Regions from separate parts of the Homo sapiens genome. Here regions 1 and 2 are each reported to be linked to region 3. The links are microRNA targets in miRTarBase. Many come from high-throughput screens and were not tested one by one. Region 3 holds a microRNA gene; each other region holds the end of a gene's coding sequence.

Region 1 (5,000 bases), not on the chromosome of region 3:
TTTGAAATATCCTTTACAAGCCAGAGGCAATGGCTCACACCTGTAATCTCAGCACTTTGGGAGGCTGAGGTGGGTGGATGACTTGAGGTCAGGAGTTTGAGACCAGCCTGGCCAACAGAGTGAAACCCCATCTCTACTAAAAATACAAAAATTAGCTGGGCATGGTGGTGCACACTTGTAATCCCAGCTACTTGGGAGGCTGAGGCATGAGAATCGCTTGAACTCAGGAGGTGGAGGTTGCAGTGAGTTGAGACTGTGCCACCGCACTCCAGCCTGGGTGACACAGTGAGACTCCATCTCTAAATAAAAAAATAAATAAATGAAATATCCTTTACAATAAATTAGTATTGTAACCAATATGTAGTTTTAATAAAGTAATAAAATTAAAAATGGGTAAACATAAGTAGAGTGTTTCTCTGTGTTCTGGGAGCTGCTCTAGCAAATAAATCAAAACCAAGGAAAGGGTCACGGGAACCCCACTTTATAGCCAGTCAGAAGTATAGGGACTTGCGATTGGTATCTGGAGTGGGGGCAGTCTTGTGGGCTGAGCCCTCCACCTGTGGGATCTGACTCCAATTCCAGGTAGACAGTGTCAGAATTGAATTATAGGACATCCAGCTGGTGTCCACTGGACAACCTGGTGTAAAAGTATTGAGTGGTATGTGACAACAGCAAAAACACTTTGGTTTTGTCGTATATCCCTAATACTATGCTTTTAGGTTATCAGATGATGTTATTACAGATATGACTGGAGATACAGGTCTTGGTCTTAAGAGTAATATTTCAACTACCCATTATTTACTATTCCTTTCCCATGGAAACTCAGTGAAAATGACAGAAGATTATAGGATTTTTAAAGTTTTTGACATGCAAGCATAATGCAGACCTCTTTGATGGTTGACAGATTCTTTTATTAACAGTCAAAAACTTCACACAATTGGAAAATAAATGTTTCTTCAATGAATAATCAAACAAAAATTATCCAGGACCTTATAGGGTTTTCAGTATGTACCAGGCTTGATGCACATCTTAGAAGACAGGACATTATCTTGCTGGGATCATTAGGGTATGACTGAAAGTGAGAAACAGTAATTTGTAAAACATTTACCTAATAATAGCTTTCCCAAACAGTACTTCCCCTGGAATTAAAACAGGAAATACAATTTATGTTTATACGTGGTTTTAGATATGACTCAATATACATAGATTTTAACTTTATGGTTTGGTATTACTTTTTTAAAGGCGCTCAATAGAAATTCAAATCTCACTTTAAGACCATGAATTTCAAGTTGCAATGAAGTGTACAATAAAGTTGTGATTTCTCAACATCAAAGTTTAATTATTACAAAATAGTTCAAGCAACAGATAGAATTTCAAAAACAGTATTTGCTTTGCTTCCTTGTTTTGCTCCAACACTAATCATGCTGAGGTTTTTGAAGCACAGCTATGACTAGGGCAGGCACTGCTGATTCAGTCACAAAAACCCTTCTTGGATGAACAATACTTGTTCTTTTCAGAAGAAAAGCAATTTTACCTTTTCTATTTCTATTATGAAAAACAGAGCTAAACAATTTTTGTATTTTTAGTAGAGACAGGGTTTCACCACGTTGGCCACGCTGGTCTTGAACTCCTTCAAGTGTTCTGCCTGCCTTGGCCTCCCAAAGTGCTGGGATTACAGATGTGAGTCACCCCGCCCAGCCCTAAACAATCTTAAAGTCTCCTTTTCCACCAGATGACTAAAATCTTTAGTTTGTAAATTCCCTTAGTCTCTTAAAATCAATCTATCCAGAAGACAAGAAAGACAAACTTAGTGAAGGAAAGAATGCTTCCTCACTCTCTCACCAGAAAGCCAAAGCAAAAATAGAGCCCCACAGAAATTTCAACATTGAACATTTTTTAAATCTTAAAGCTTAGTAGGAATCAAAAAGCTTTATATAAGTCAGCAGATCTGCAAACCTTGTTAGTTCAATACAAACCATGATCTAGCAGACAACTTATATTCAAAAGCTCATCTTTCAAAAGGTTCCACCTTGCCCGTCTATTTAAACAGTCACGACCTTCCTTAGAGAGGCAAGCAGTAATCTTACATGACACATAAAAGCTGTTTCACTGTGACACATATATAATGAAAAGTAATCAGTCTCCAAAGTTTTTCCAATCCACAAGCATGCATACACACACACACATACACACACCGCTTTGGTACTCTTGTCTCTAATAATTTTTAAAGCCTACTTTTCTAACTGAATTTTAAAAGTACCTTGAATTTAAATTTTTTTTAAACTTCAGTCTTCAATATTGAAACTGCTAAGTTACCCCATTTTTCCATGAAAAAAAAATAGAAAAATAAACTTGGGGAAAAAATTAAAAATAAAAAATAAACTTGGGAAAACATTACTAAATAGGTTTAAGAAAAAAGCCTATATAGGCCAGGTGCAGTGGCTCACACCTGTAATCCCAGCACTTTGGGAGGCTGAGCCAGACGGATCACTTGAGGTCAGGAGTTCGAGACCACCCTGGCCAACATGGTGAAACCCTGTCTCTGCTAAAAATACAAAAAGTAGCCAGGCATGGTAGCATGCACCTGTAATCCCAGCTATTCAGGAGGCTGAGGTGGGACAATCACTTGAACCCGGGAAGTGGAGGTTGCAGTGAGCTCCGGTCGCGCCACTGCACTCCAGCCTGGGCAACAGAGCAAGACTCTGTCTCCAAAAAAAAAGAAAAAAAAAAAACGCCTATATAAAGAAAATATTCCAATAGGAGATAAACCTATGTACACAGAGTTGCTCACCCCAGCATTATCTGTAGTAACAATTAGAAACAAATGAAATATTCAAAAACAGTAAATTAGGCAGATGATGAAACAACATGGCAAATGTATGATGCTAAGCCAAATATACAAAAAGATCCCTGTGAGACGGAGCAGGGACCCCTCTTTGGGGTGTGCCAGGGGGATTCCCACAAGCACAGAAATAAAGGAGAATCTTGAGTTTCCTTCACCGAAAACTCCAGGCACCCAGCTCGCCCCGAGAAGGAAACCAGCAAGCTGATAAGCAAGAAGGTCATAACAGTTTCAAACAATAGCCAGGGAAGTTAGAGTCACCTAGAGACATCCTTAACACGTGCCCCTGAGCTACTTTTCAGAAACCCAGACCCCCACCAAATGGATTCACACAGACGTCAGATAAGGGGGAACACCAGGGACTAAACTCTGACCTCCATTCTTTGCTCTCAGTTTCTTCCTGAGGGGCCTGGCCAGACCTTAATGTTCCTTTCTGCGGACCCCAAGTTTTTAGACAAAGCTTTGCTTCCTTAACCAATCACAAATCAGGGAGTCTTTGAATCCACCATAACCTGTAAGCCCGCCCCCTGCCTACCCCACTTCACCTTTCAGGCCAAACCAATATATAAGCTTCATGTAGTGATTTACAATTTTGGTATACAGCCATACCACCCTGAAGGCACCCGATCTCGACTGATTTACAATTTTGCCTTTAACTTCTGCTTTCCTGAAATTTACCACTGCCTTTAAATACTCTAGCTTGTAGGTCATCATGGAGATTGGGTCTCAAGCATGAGCTGCCCAATTCTCCTTGCTTGGCGCCCTGCAAATAAACATCCTCCTTTCTCCTACTGCAAAAACCACCTTTTTGCAGTTTTGCTGTTGAAGTTTGCCTTTACTGTGCAGGTGAGCAAACCCCAGTTCAGTTCACCTGCTACATTTAAACAGTATACAGCTCTATTTGCAAAAACTATACAGGAACATTTGACCTAACAAAAACCACTGGGTGACATCTACCAGAAGTATCACTGCAGAGGATTACTCGACAAAAAGTGCAATTTTCTATAGAAAGCCGAGTGTTTCCCTTGGGAAAGTGTTAATATTTTATTTTTAAGTAACTGGGGCAAAAGACTAGATTTTCTATAACTGCAATAGAATAGGACTAGAAAGGCATCCCTACAAGTCCCCAAAGTATATGGATGGAATATTTTTGATGGTTTTATAAATGACAATTGTAATTTAGCTCTCTGAAGAAAATGTCCAATCAGATTCAATCACACAAAGCATTTACTATTTTCAATCACTTGCCCAATAACAAAATGTTTAGTAAGAAATTATTCAGAACATTAAGTTGTTTATGAAATAAGTGACTAAGCAACATCAAGAAATGCTACAATAGAGCAGCTTACTGTATTCTGCAGTACTCTATACCACTACAAAAACAGTCATAAAGAGCTTAACATACTCAGCATAACGATCGTGGTTTACTTTTTGCAAGCCATGTATCTTTCAGTTACATTCTCCCAGTTGATTACATTCCAAATAGCTTTTAGATAATCAGGCCTGACATTTTTATACTGAAGGTAGTAAGCGTGCTCCCACACATCAATCCCCAGCAGTGGAATAAGGCCTGTTAGAAAGAAGGGGAAAACAAACCAACCATCAGTTTCAGTCTAAAACATTGCATCTTCTCAATTTCAACTTTTATTATTCTACTCACACAAAATTACCCTTTGTAACAATCTCATTCACTTGTTTTTTTATATAAGTAGGAAATCTAGATAAGAATGAATATTCCTATAAAATATTTTTAATTCACTGTTTACAAAGAAAATGTGACAAATACTAACAATAAAATAGACTTGGGAAAATTAACAACAGTACTTTAATAGCTATTCTTAAAAATACCAACAAATTAATTCAAGAGCCAATTCCCAGCCTTCCTCATGGTGGTCTTAGGAGCAGCAGGAAGGGTGGGTTACATCTGTGGGAGCAGGCAAAAGCCCACTGAGAACCTCCTCCAAAGGGTCTGGGCACTCACAGGGGTTTACGAGGAACCAGCTCTGCTCCCCAAGGCTAATTTTAATCTTTGGGAATACAGAGCAGTTGGAGGACACAGTGTTTTCAGAAATTAAGTGAGGTAAATGAAGAATTTAGTTCTATCTGTAAAACATCCATTTAAAAAAACTTTTGGTCTGGGCGCAGTGGCTCAGGCCTG
Region 2 (5,000 bases), not on the chromosome of region 3:
CTTGAATTTCTATATGACATTTAGAATCAGCCTGATTTCTACTAGAGGAAGCCAGCTGGGATTCTAATAGAGATTGCGTTCTAGATCAATTTCAGGAGTATTGCCATCTTAACAATATTAAACCTTCCCATTCATGAACGTGGAATGTCTATTTCCTTAGGTCTTTAATGTTTTGTACTTTTCCCCATGTAAGTTTTGCACTTATATTGTTCATTCCTAAATATTTTATTCTTTTTGATGTTATTGTAGATATTTAAGAGAATGTTTTCTTAGTTTCAGATTGTTCATGGCTGGTATATAGAAATACTAGTTTTTGTATGTTAATCTTGTATACTGCAGATGATCAATTCATTTTTCTAGCAGTTTTATTTGGAGATTCCTTACGGTTATCTGTATACAAGGTCATATCATCTACAAATAGACATAGCTTTGTCTTCTCAATTTCAGTCTGGATGTTTTCTTTTTCTTTTGCCTAATTGCCCTGGCTAGAACTTCTAGTACAATCATGAATAAACCCATGGGTTTTCCTAAACGTCCTATATCAGGTTGAGGAAGTTCCCTTCTACCCTTGTTTTTATCATGAAAGTGTTTGTCAAGGTTTTTGTGTCTATTGAGATGATCATGTGTGTCTTTTTCCTTTTATTGATATGGTATCCCAGCTTCTTTTGAAAGCTGAAATCGTAGGATGCCCAACATATAAAACAGGGTGGGAGGCTGCTCTGGTTGAAGCAGTAAGGGAAGCTTGGGGCCGCCAAGCTGGCTCAATGGCCTTTCCTTACCAGGTAGCCTTGGGCTCCACAGAAAACTGAGCTGGGAGCCAAGAACAGCAAGCGGTCCCTGTGGCTCTCCTCCAGAACTCCTTGTTGGGCATGGCTGAGTCAGCCAACTAAGCCCAGACCCTTGGCCTCGAGGAGCCCTGTGGGCAGGGCTGGCTGATTACAAGTACCCAACCACTTTATCAAATAGTAGCTCGTTAGCATCCTGCAAATTGCCTATTTATCCTGGTCCAGGGCTTCAGAGCCAACTCCCCCTTATGCCTCGGGCCAGGAGGTTGATCTTGGGGCTTTGGAGTCCTTAACACTTAAGTCATTTTGATGGTATCATTCCACTAAATGTTAGTAGTTCAGATCTATGGTTACCACAAAGTTTGCACTTCTAAAACCTTGATGATAATCAACCAAAAGTACAGAGGTTCAGTATCTCAGACAGATCGCAGACAGCCCACTGATTACTTTTTGGGAAGAGTGATTAAGAAACTTTATTACAGAAAATGAATGCATCCAACGTCCCCAAATACATTTGTGACAAGAACAGACACACACAGGAGACACAGACAATAGTCACTACATCACAGCCTTGTTCTTTCCGAAGGATAAAATGTCATTCAAGAATGGGGTGAGGTGGTTAGAGGGAGTAGGTACTATCCTTTTAAATGGGGGAAAAAAAAAAAAAAAGCAACAGGTTGGCATCTTAAGAACACAGACAGTGGGCCCAGAAATCAAGCTAAGCCTAAGCCTTAGGTAACATCATGCCACTTACATCATCTCAGAGAAACTAGGGCATTATTCCACTAGAAGAGCAATCTTGCCACAGTGTGAAAACGTTGAGTAGTGATCTTGCTGCCCCAGCTAATGGACCAAGTGGCCTCAACTTGACAGCCTCTTTAAAACTCAATGTTTGCCTAATCAAAGATCATCTGGCTAAACTGCTCCCCCACTTCTGCTTAGCTACTTTGGAAGCACAAAAGTTACCCCTTTCCATCCTTGGCCCTTCCCTGGTTGGTACATCTAGTTATGAGATAGACGCGCACCACTTAACAAATCACTCCCTTTTGACCGCAGGTTGTTTCTCTTCCATATTTGACGAGGCTGGCAACAGCTCCCGAATCTTGGCCTAGCACATCACGAATTGGGAAGCTAAAGCTTTAGCTTAGAATGCCAAGTGACAAGGACATGGCTGAAGCAGGAGGGGAAATTCTGGAACAAGTGCCTCTGGGCAAACCTCACAACCGAGTTTTTTAAATTAGTGGTCATTTTCTAGAACTAGAGGAACACATTCAGGACAAACAGTTCTGATGGGAGAGCGAATGGCTATGAACACATAAGAGATCAGGCTGTGACCGTGACCATAACTCGTACTCATCCAGGACCCGACAGGGCGGAGAGGACACCGCCTCCAGACATGCAAGTTTCTCAACAGTGAATTTTAAGAAAAAGCTGCTTTCTCTTAAAATTAATAGCACAAAAACACTCCTGCGTGTTTCATAGCCTCAAACATACACACCCAAATATTAATGCTGGGCAATAGCAACACTCACCCACAACACAGTACTGTATCCTTCATTGCTACGGACAGTAATGATGTATATACACATCAGCCTTCAAAATGGTATTTAGTGTCACCACTTGCTACTGTGGCCATCTCCCCTCACCCCAACCTGGATAAAATGTTACACTACCCACTAATATAACCACTGACACACAAACCAAGCTCCTTCCAGTTTAACATTGAACATCAATCTACATTTCCAGTGAATGAGCTAAACTTATGAGCAGGCCATTCAACTTTTCATGATACATTTAGTGCTCAGAAATGGTTGATTCCATTAGCCTGCCCTATAGCTCAGGTGGCCCAAGATGGAGCCTATCATCTTCCTTGGGGTGTTTGGTGTTTCCAAGTAGGAGCAAAAAAAGGATACCGTCCCCTACCCCACCACCCCATCCCACATACCCTCACTGGCATCCAGGAGACCAGCAGCAGGCTCAAGACCCCAAATGTTGGGCACCACAAATAATGTGATATGTGCCAGGAGCACGGGGGGTAGGGGTGAAAGAGAAAAACAATAAGGCCTTAATTTTTGACACACCATACACTCTGAAATTGCTGTTTAGCAATGCATTTGGCCCCACAAAATAGGGGGTGGAGGTGGGACAAAAGTTAAACCTAGATAGCCTCAGTCCTAATCACCCACCTTCCTATACCTTGGAAGGCTGCTGAACCTTGCCTATGTCGTTCTCCTAACTCCTCCAGACTTCATCTGAATGCCACTCAGACACAAACAAAATCACACAGTAGCTTCAAGTAGCCCTCTCCTTCATCTCAGCCCTAAGTGAGCTGGCCACTGAGTAATAAAAGAAGCTACCACATTTATAGGGAGGCCAGTCTCCAAATACAATGGAGTGGGGGTTTGTTCACTGCTGTGAGTCAGAAATTGACTGTTATAATAGAGAAGAGTTTTAAAAATGTAATACTGTTTATTTAACTTCAAAAACATTTCAGCATTCTAAACATACAAAAAAAATAACAGAACGTTGCGAATCGTGTTTAAGTACAGGAGGTTCTTGAACTTTCATTGATGCAGTGACTCTTTGCTTTGCTGACAATGAAGAGTTCTATAGTTTGTTTAAAAACAAACAGTTTAAAAACTACCGCACTTAAAAAAAAAAAATATTCTCATGCCAGCTGACCCCCCTTTGTCCACAGCTAAGATGGCAGCAGAATGCTATGTCACTATATACAGAAACAAGACAACCTGAAGCTAAATGGATGCCCCCTGCAGAGTCAACAGGTCCAGCCTCACAGTGCACGCCCTGAGCTACAGCCTCTCCCAAAAGGCATCTTCCCCACAGCCTCAACGCCGAGCAAGGAGCATCAAGGGTTTGTCTCGGTTGTTTTGTTCTTTTTACAAACTATAGATATATACAGTTGAAAACTCAGGATTTCTAGCCAATAACCATAGTTACCACCACCTTACAAATAAAAAGAAAATGCCAGAAACATCTTTAAATGCCTTGTCACACCAACAGCAAAGTGCACAGAGTGAGGAGAACACGAGAGTGCCTTTTCATTTTAAAAATGTTTGGAAATATGTACAACTTTGATACAGTTTCAGGGTGCTCCAGACACCCATGGCCACTTCATGTAAACCACTGACAATTTCTAGAGCACTTTGAGAGACTACAATATGATCGTGATCAAATTTTGTAATTAAACCTAATGAGGGCAACAGACACTTCTCAAATAAGAGATGTGTCAATTACGGCGCTCCCCTACTCTAAGTATTCACAAGGAGACAGATAAACAGTTTCTTTATTCATCCTCCTCCTCCTCCTCCTCCTCTTCTTCCTCCTCCTCTTCTTCATCTTCCTCTTCCACCTTTTTCCGGGCAACTTTAGCAGGACCCTTTGCACCATCAAACTTTCCTTTCGACTTATAGTCAGCAACATCCTAGAGGAACAGGGACACATTTCAAATGAGTATGCGGCTGTTTTAACACAAAGTAGAAACATGCAGTCCTCATCTCAGGTAAGAGGACAGGAATTGAAATCAAGTAAGACAGTGCTGCTATCATATATATCTGAAGTGTTTCCATATATGAATTTGGTTCTTAGCCATTCGAATTTAAAAGTTAGTGGGTGTTCAAGTGTCCTTCAAGTCACATTAGTAGGACTATCAAATCCTCTGTTAACATTTTTTTTTCCTTAAAGAGTAAGGAAAATTTTTCAAGCCTGAAGTTGTCCCCAAAACAAAGACCTGTCAAAAAAAAGCATGAACACCAGCACCCGTAGCTACCTTGCAGGGGGATGGGCCCTTGAGCGCTATGCTAAGTACTCAGCCCAGCAAAGCTGCCACATGCCCTGCAACCTACTGATAGCAGAACCACTGCCTGTTCACCAGTCCAGGCTTCCAGCCCCACCTTACCTTCTCATACTTCTCCTTCAGCTTTGCCGCCTTAGTGATGTAAGGCTGCTTTTCACTGTCATTTAAATTATTCCACATCTCACCCAGCTTTTTTGCCACGTCTCCAATAGAGATGCCGGGGTTTGTGGATTTGATCTTGGGGCGGAATTCTGAACAGAACAGGAAGAATCCAGACCTTGGAAGAATTACATACATTACATGAGAAACCACAAAAAATTTGAGTTAAAGTTGAAATCCCACATTCCTGAGAAGCATCTCCCTCCTACCACTATGACTTCTCCCTAAAGTGAAGTAATCTA
Region 3 (5,179 bases):
CATACAAAACATTCTTTCAAGCATTTTTTTTGAAAATTGAGTAAAAAATGTTTAACAAAAAAGGTGTTAACTTTATGTTTTAAGGAAAAATATTGAAAATGTTATCCTGGAGTGCCTCACCTTAGGATGACTCTGCTGCCGTCCTAGCTTTCCCTTTGGAGTCTGAAGGACGGGTGTAGTCTCCTTAATGTTCTGGCTAGGTCATTGTCTCATTCTGGGAGCTGTCAAGCACTCTCCTGAGCCTTGCAGGGTCCAGTAGAATAATTCCATACGTGAACTCTCATAGGCAGCATTTGCAACAGGTGGTACAAGGCATTTAAGATTGGGTAGAACGATGTCGATATTCTGTGAGTAATTTTTATATTGTCTTCCTGTTTATATTCTACATTTTGTAAGTATTGTTTAGGACTTTATTTGCTAGTAATGGGACTTTTATTTAAGGCAAAAATCTGCATCGTGCAATGTATCTTGCAGAAGCAGAGATGAATTTTAGCAGATGACATATTGCCATAAGACAAGATTGTTTAAATGAGAGAAATTTAACTTTAATCATATTTGTGCTTTGTAGTTTTGCCCCATCATTCAGTTTTTTAATTAAAGAAACTATAATGTCAGGTTTGGTTAAAATATCATTGTCAGAAAATTTGAAACTCACTGGGATCTTAGCTTTAAGACTGAGACTTTCATTTTAAAAATAAAATAGCTGAATGAAAAATAGTTTGCTTTAGTTAAGAATACATACATAAAGTGTTTAATTGTTAAATGTGAAAAAAGTTTTGAGTAGCCTTGTGTTACATTTTTTAAGCTTGACCAGAATCTAAGAAAGATGAAAATTAATTTCAAATACTGAAGCTAAAACATGTTAATGAACTAAATAAAAGTTGACACATTTCTAATTTTATCCATCTTCCCACCTTTTACCCTTAAGTATTTAAAGTATTCATAGACAAAAGCCATCCCTTATCATTTCACTCCAGTTAACAGTGCATAAACTGAAGTTTGGATATTTTCTCAAAAGATGTGTCAAAATATACATTTCAAGTGCATTAACCACTTTCCTTATGCTTCTGAAGATAAATGAATTGCCTGAACATCTCAAGATCTTGAAAGTTTATAGTGATGGAAGCATAGGTTGCAAGTGAATGTGTTGGCCTTGTAAATTCTACTCCTAGAACTGTAGCATAAGCACCTTCTTAATTAAAGAATGACGCAGTCATAAATTTATGTATACCATGACGCGTGGAAGTATCAAAAATTTCAACTTTCCATATGTCAAAAGAGGAGAAACTATTATTTTAATATAGTTGAACACTAGTTGGAAATAGTAGTCTTTTCACTGTGTTTTGCCCAGACCCAGACTGGCAGAGTTAACCCAGACTGGCAGAGTTAACTCAAAGCACTTGATCCTTTGGAATACTCTTTTTCTCCCTTTTCTTTTCTCTGTCTTTCCACCCTATCCCCTTCCAAAAAAAAAAAAAAAAAAAAAAAATCATGACATAGAAAACCATACTTAGTTTATGGACAAGAATTCTTAGAATAATTTATTCTTTGTTAAGCATCAGACTGAAGTTATATTGTTTTGTTATATTGAGTTTTTATATCAATATAGGGTGCTGCAAAGCTGTGTACAATAAAGGTCAAGGGTAGTGATTTGCTGACAACAATTAGGAAAAGAGAACTATAGAATGCACAGGAACATTTTCAGAAATGGGTTTTATTATATTTCATAGGCACCACTCACTTTACTTTTGGTGGGTTTTAATACTTGAATCAAAATAAAATAATACATGAGTTAAGTATTAAACCAACAGATTAAAACCCCAGGCCCCCGAGCCCCTCATTTTGGTTGTAGCTCTTGGTGTAGATGCTATGGTGTGAGGGCTGCTTTCTTTCAATGGCTGGTTGTCATTCAGGCTGGGTTGTCATGTGACTGCCTGTCTGTGCCTGCTGTACAGGTGAGCGGATGTTCTGCACAGCAAGTGTAGACAGGCAGACACATGACAACTCTGTCCAGCCAGGCCCTTGGTTCCTTCAGGTTTCCTTTGCTCATAGACAGATACAATCAGCCTGTTTTCCAGATTTGGTGATTTTGGAGAGTAAGGGGAAAGGGAGAAAAATACACAATATAATTAAACATTAAAACATTATGGAACTAAAAACAAGTTAGACTTTTGACTTTATTCAGAAAGTACATTTATACATTTGTTCCAAATGTGCTAACATGGATAATTTGCGTAACAGAAAACTCACATTAAAATTTTAAGGAAAAAAAGAGATTAAACACAAGGTTTATTCTTAAGTCCAATTCATATTATTACTGGCCCACATGTAGTCAGAGTTCAGCGTAATTGAACCAGATGTTTTTCCTCTTTGCAAAAAACTGCATATTTTAATACTGAAGTTAAAGATAAAAACTATGTTTATGCATGTTTCTTTTAGTAGATAAGTACCATAACCTTGTCCATGAAAAAGAAAATTATCATTTACATGGAAACAGCAGCCCTTTTCAAAATAATTAATGAGCCTAATTTATTTGGCAACCCAAGTTGCTGACTTTGGTATTTGATGCTCTGATAATAGGATCCTACAAGGGAATATGTTTTTACCAATTATATGTGAAACAACAGGAACCTATTTAAATGTCTCATTTTCCTTTTAAATGCAAAGTTTATAACTGTGGATGTGAAATCAAATTAAAGGCAGTTGTGAGCTTAAGTTATCCACCTCTTAATTAACTATAGGGCCATGCTGTGAATCAAAAGGGTACAAACTGGAAGGCTGTTACTCACAGTGATGCTCAGAATGTGTTTTGGATATAGTTAGTGCAATATAGTTACAAAATAGTACTTAAGAAAAGGCAGAAAAGGCAAATTCATTTCATATCCAAAAAATTAAAACCAGATCCTTTGAAAATTTTTCTTATAATTTATATGAGCTAATAGTGTTAAATATGCAGATATAAAATTTAATTCTGGTGAGTTGAGAGTAATTCTATTTTAATATCAATTATCAATTCACATCTTTAGAAGTATTAAGCAAATTCCCCTCCCCTTTTAAAAACAAAAATATCCAAATAGTCAAAATTCCAGTAAGTAGGACTTCTTAAAAAACACAGCACCAAAAAAACACAGTATTGTCCAAGGATTGTATAATTAGACATTTTCTCAAAGAACTTTAAGAAAAACAAACAGTTTGTGATTTATCTTTAATTGTAAAATTCTGAGAAAATAGCAAATAGAAACTTAATGGAAAGCAAAATAGTTTTAGATACTGAGAAAATTACAATTTTCTACAAATCTGGACTTTTATGCAGTGATTAGGTAAGGTAATGTTTTAACAAAAGCTAATAAGTGCCATTTTCTGTGTATTTATGTAATTTCAAGAAAACAAATTTCCGATTCTGTTTCGGCCATCACTTTCGAGTAAAGGAACTTTTTTTTTTTCTTGACAGAATCAAAAACATGAGTAAACTTGGCTGTTATTTAAATAATTACAAGGTTAGAGTATGCCAAAAACCAGTGCCTTAAAATACTATTGTGTTATTGTTGCTGCATTCAGTGCAACAGAAAGTAATTATAGAGTGATTCACTTACAAAGAGTATATTGGTGGAAATTAAAAATTACTATAATTCTTTATAACTTTTCCTCTCTCTCCCATAAATAATTTGATCCAGTTAACTCTGCTCAATTAAAGGAATGATGCATGCAACCTGAAAAAATAAAAAGAAATATTTGTGAGTTTGTATGTTATGCTTTAATATAAAACAGTTTTATTAAGGCAAGATATAAAAATTTTTTGAGCCAGAAAAACCACAACAGTTTTTCAGGGGAAAAAAAAAATCTTGCTGAAAACAATTGTTCTATTCATAAGGCTTTTGGACAATTTATGTTTCTGATAGATTTTTAAAACACACTTACAGTAACTATGTGACATATGCACACTTCATTGTTATGTTGAACCTGCCCCTAAACTTGTTAAAAAGATGAAAGACTGAAAACCATATTGACCTTTTTTTAATCTCCCAAATTATAGGTTGAATATTAGTTTATTATTACTTAAAATACTAGCTAAAACATAAAAGAGCTATTTGTATTATTATCATACCATGTAATTTTTAGTGTGGTTATTACACCTTGTTTTCTTTTTGTCTTTTATTTCTTAAGGAAAAAAATGTAAGAAAAGAATTGTCTTCTAAGTCTTCTGTAGTGAAATTAAACCAAAGCAACTCCAGGAAACTGGCTGTCACGCTAAGTCAAAAAATTCAAAATGAAGATTTAATTATTTTTCCTAATTTACTTCGTTATCTCTAACTATTAAAACTGATAAAAATTATTTGTAAGAGACCTTTGAAAATGAGTAAATATTTATTTCTACTTAATTTACAGAACATGAAAGTAAGAAGGGATTTGAAGTAAGAAAGTTTCTATCTTAACTCAGGAATTTCCTGTCTCAGGTTAAAGCCTGACCTTCTAGTTATTTTAAGCCAGGATTTCTGAGTGATGGTCTCTTAGTTATTATTTTGACGTTATTGTGATGGGTGGGCTATTCTCCTTAGAGCAGAGTAAAGTGCATTGTTTATAAAGAGCAGATCCCTTACAGAGTAAGTGAAAGCTTTGGCGTCTCTTTACCGAGCATGGATGCTTGTGGATGAGTGAATTTTTTCACATTACCAAGTTGTACTTTTTATATCTTATAACAGCTTAAGACTTCAACCAAAAAAGTGGGGAGAATTCTTTCGTTAGGATTTTTATGCCTAAACTGTTTCCCACAGAGTGAAATACATGGGTGGTCTGTAGGCGAGAGGTGGGGGTAGATAGTATATTTTGGTCTTTTACAAACATAAACATATTATCTGGGCCGAAAGCCCGAATGCCAAGCAGGAAGGATATTAAGCCTATTGACTAACTACAGGAAAGTGATCAGTGTGAAACTTTGTCCTATAGTAAACAGTCTTTCTTTGATTTTGAGATCTGTGGCCTAAAAGAAAAATGAGTTTGAAAATTTAAGTCCACCGTTTTAGATTGATCCTTTTCCAGTTAAGAAATTGTGGTGTTGAAGCTAAGGCTCTGAACTTCCTTTCTCTTAGATGGTGGAAAAGTCCTTTTAACCCAGTACCTAGTCCAATTTATCAATCATTCACATGCTAAAATGAAAAATAATTATGAAATTTCTATGAAG

Evidence for each region. Region 3 holds the annotated microRNA hsa-miR-3120-3p (CACAGCAAGUGUAGACAGGCA, at 1,972-1,992, shown strand). A microRNA usually pairs through its seed, bases 2 to 8, with sites in the 3' UTR of a target mRNA and lowers its output. Matches are read on the target gene's strand: a 7mer-m8 pairs with bases 2 to 8, a 7mer-A1 pairs with bases 2 to 7 and ends in A, and an 8mer does both.
Region 1: miRTarBase lists SOD2 as a target of hsa-miR-3120-3p. Seed matches in the 3' UTR shown: 7mer-m8 at 669-675.
Region 2: miRTarBase lists HMGB3 as a target of hsa-miR-3120-3p. Seed matches in the 3' UTR shown: 7mer-m8 at 3,803-3,809.

The regions. Positions count from the first base shown.
Region 1 is chr6:159,678,227-159,683,226 of GRCh38, forward strand. It overlaps SOD2 (superoxide dismutase 2), which reads right to left. Exons shown (of 5, transcript NM_000636.4): 5 at 1-4,412. The coding sequence ends at 4,267. Among named protein-coding and RNA genes, the nearest start is that of SOD2, 13 kb to the right of the region's middle.
Region 2 is chrX:150,987,004-150,992,003 of GRCh38, reverse strand. HMGB3 (high mobility group box 3) reads right to left here. Exons shown (of 5, transcript NM_005342.4): 4 at 4,702-4,876; 5 at 1,233-4,227. The coding sequence ends at 4,090. Among named protein-coding and RNA genes, the nearest start is that of HMGB3, 6.2 kb to the right of the region's middle.
Region 3 is chr1:172,136,887-172,142,065 of GRCh38, forward strand. MIR3120 (microRNA 3120) reads left to right here and starts at 1,922; the gene lies at 1,922-2,002. The region is part of intron 14 of DNM3 (dynamin 3); the gene reads left to right. DNM3OS (DNM3 opposite strand/antisense RNA) reads right to left here. Exons shown (of 4, transcript NR_103486.1): 4 at 1-3,710. It overlaps MIR214 (microRNA 214), which reads right to left and starts at 2,021; the gene lies at 1,912-2,021.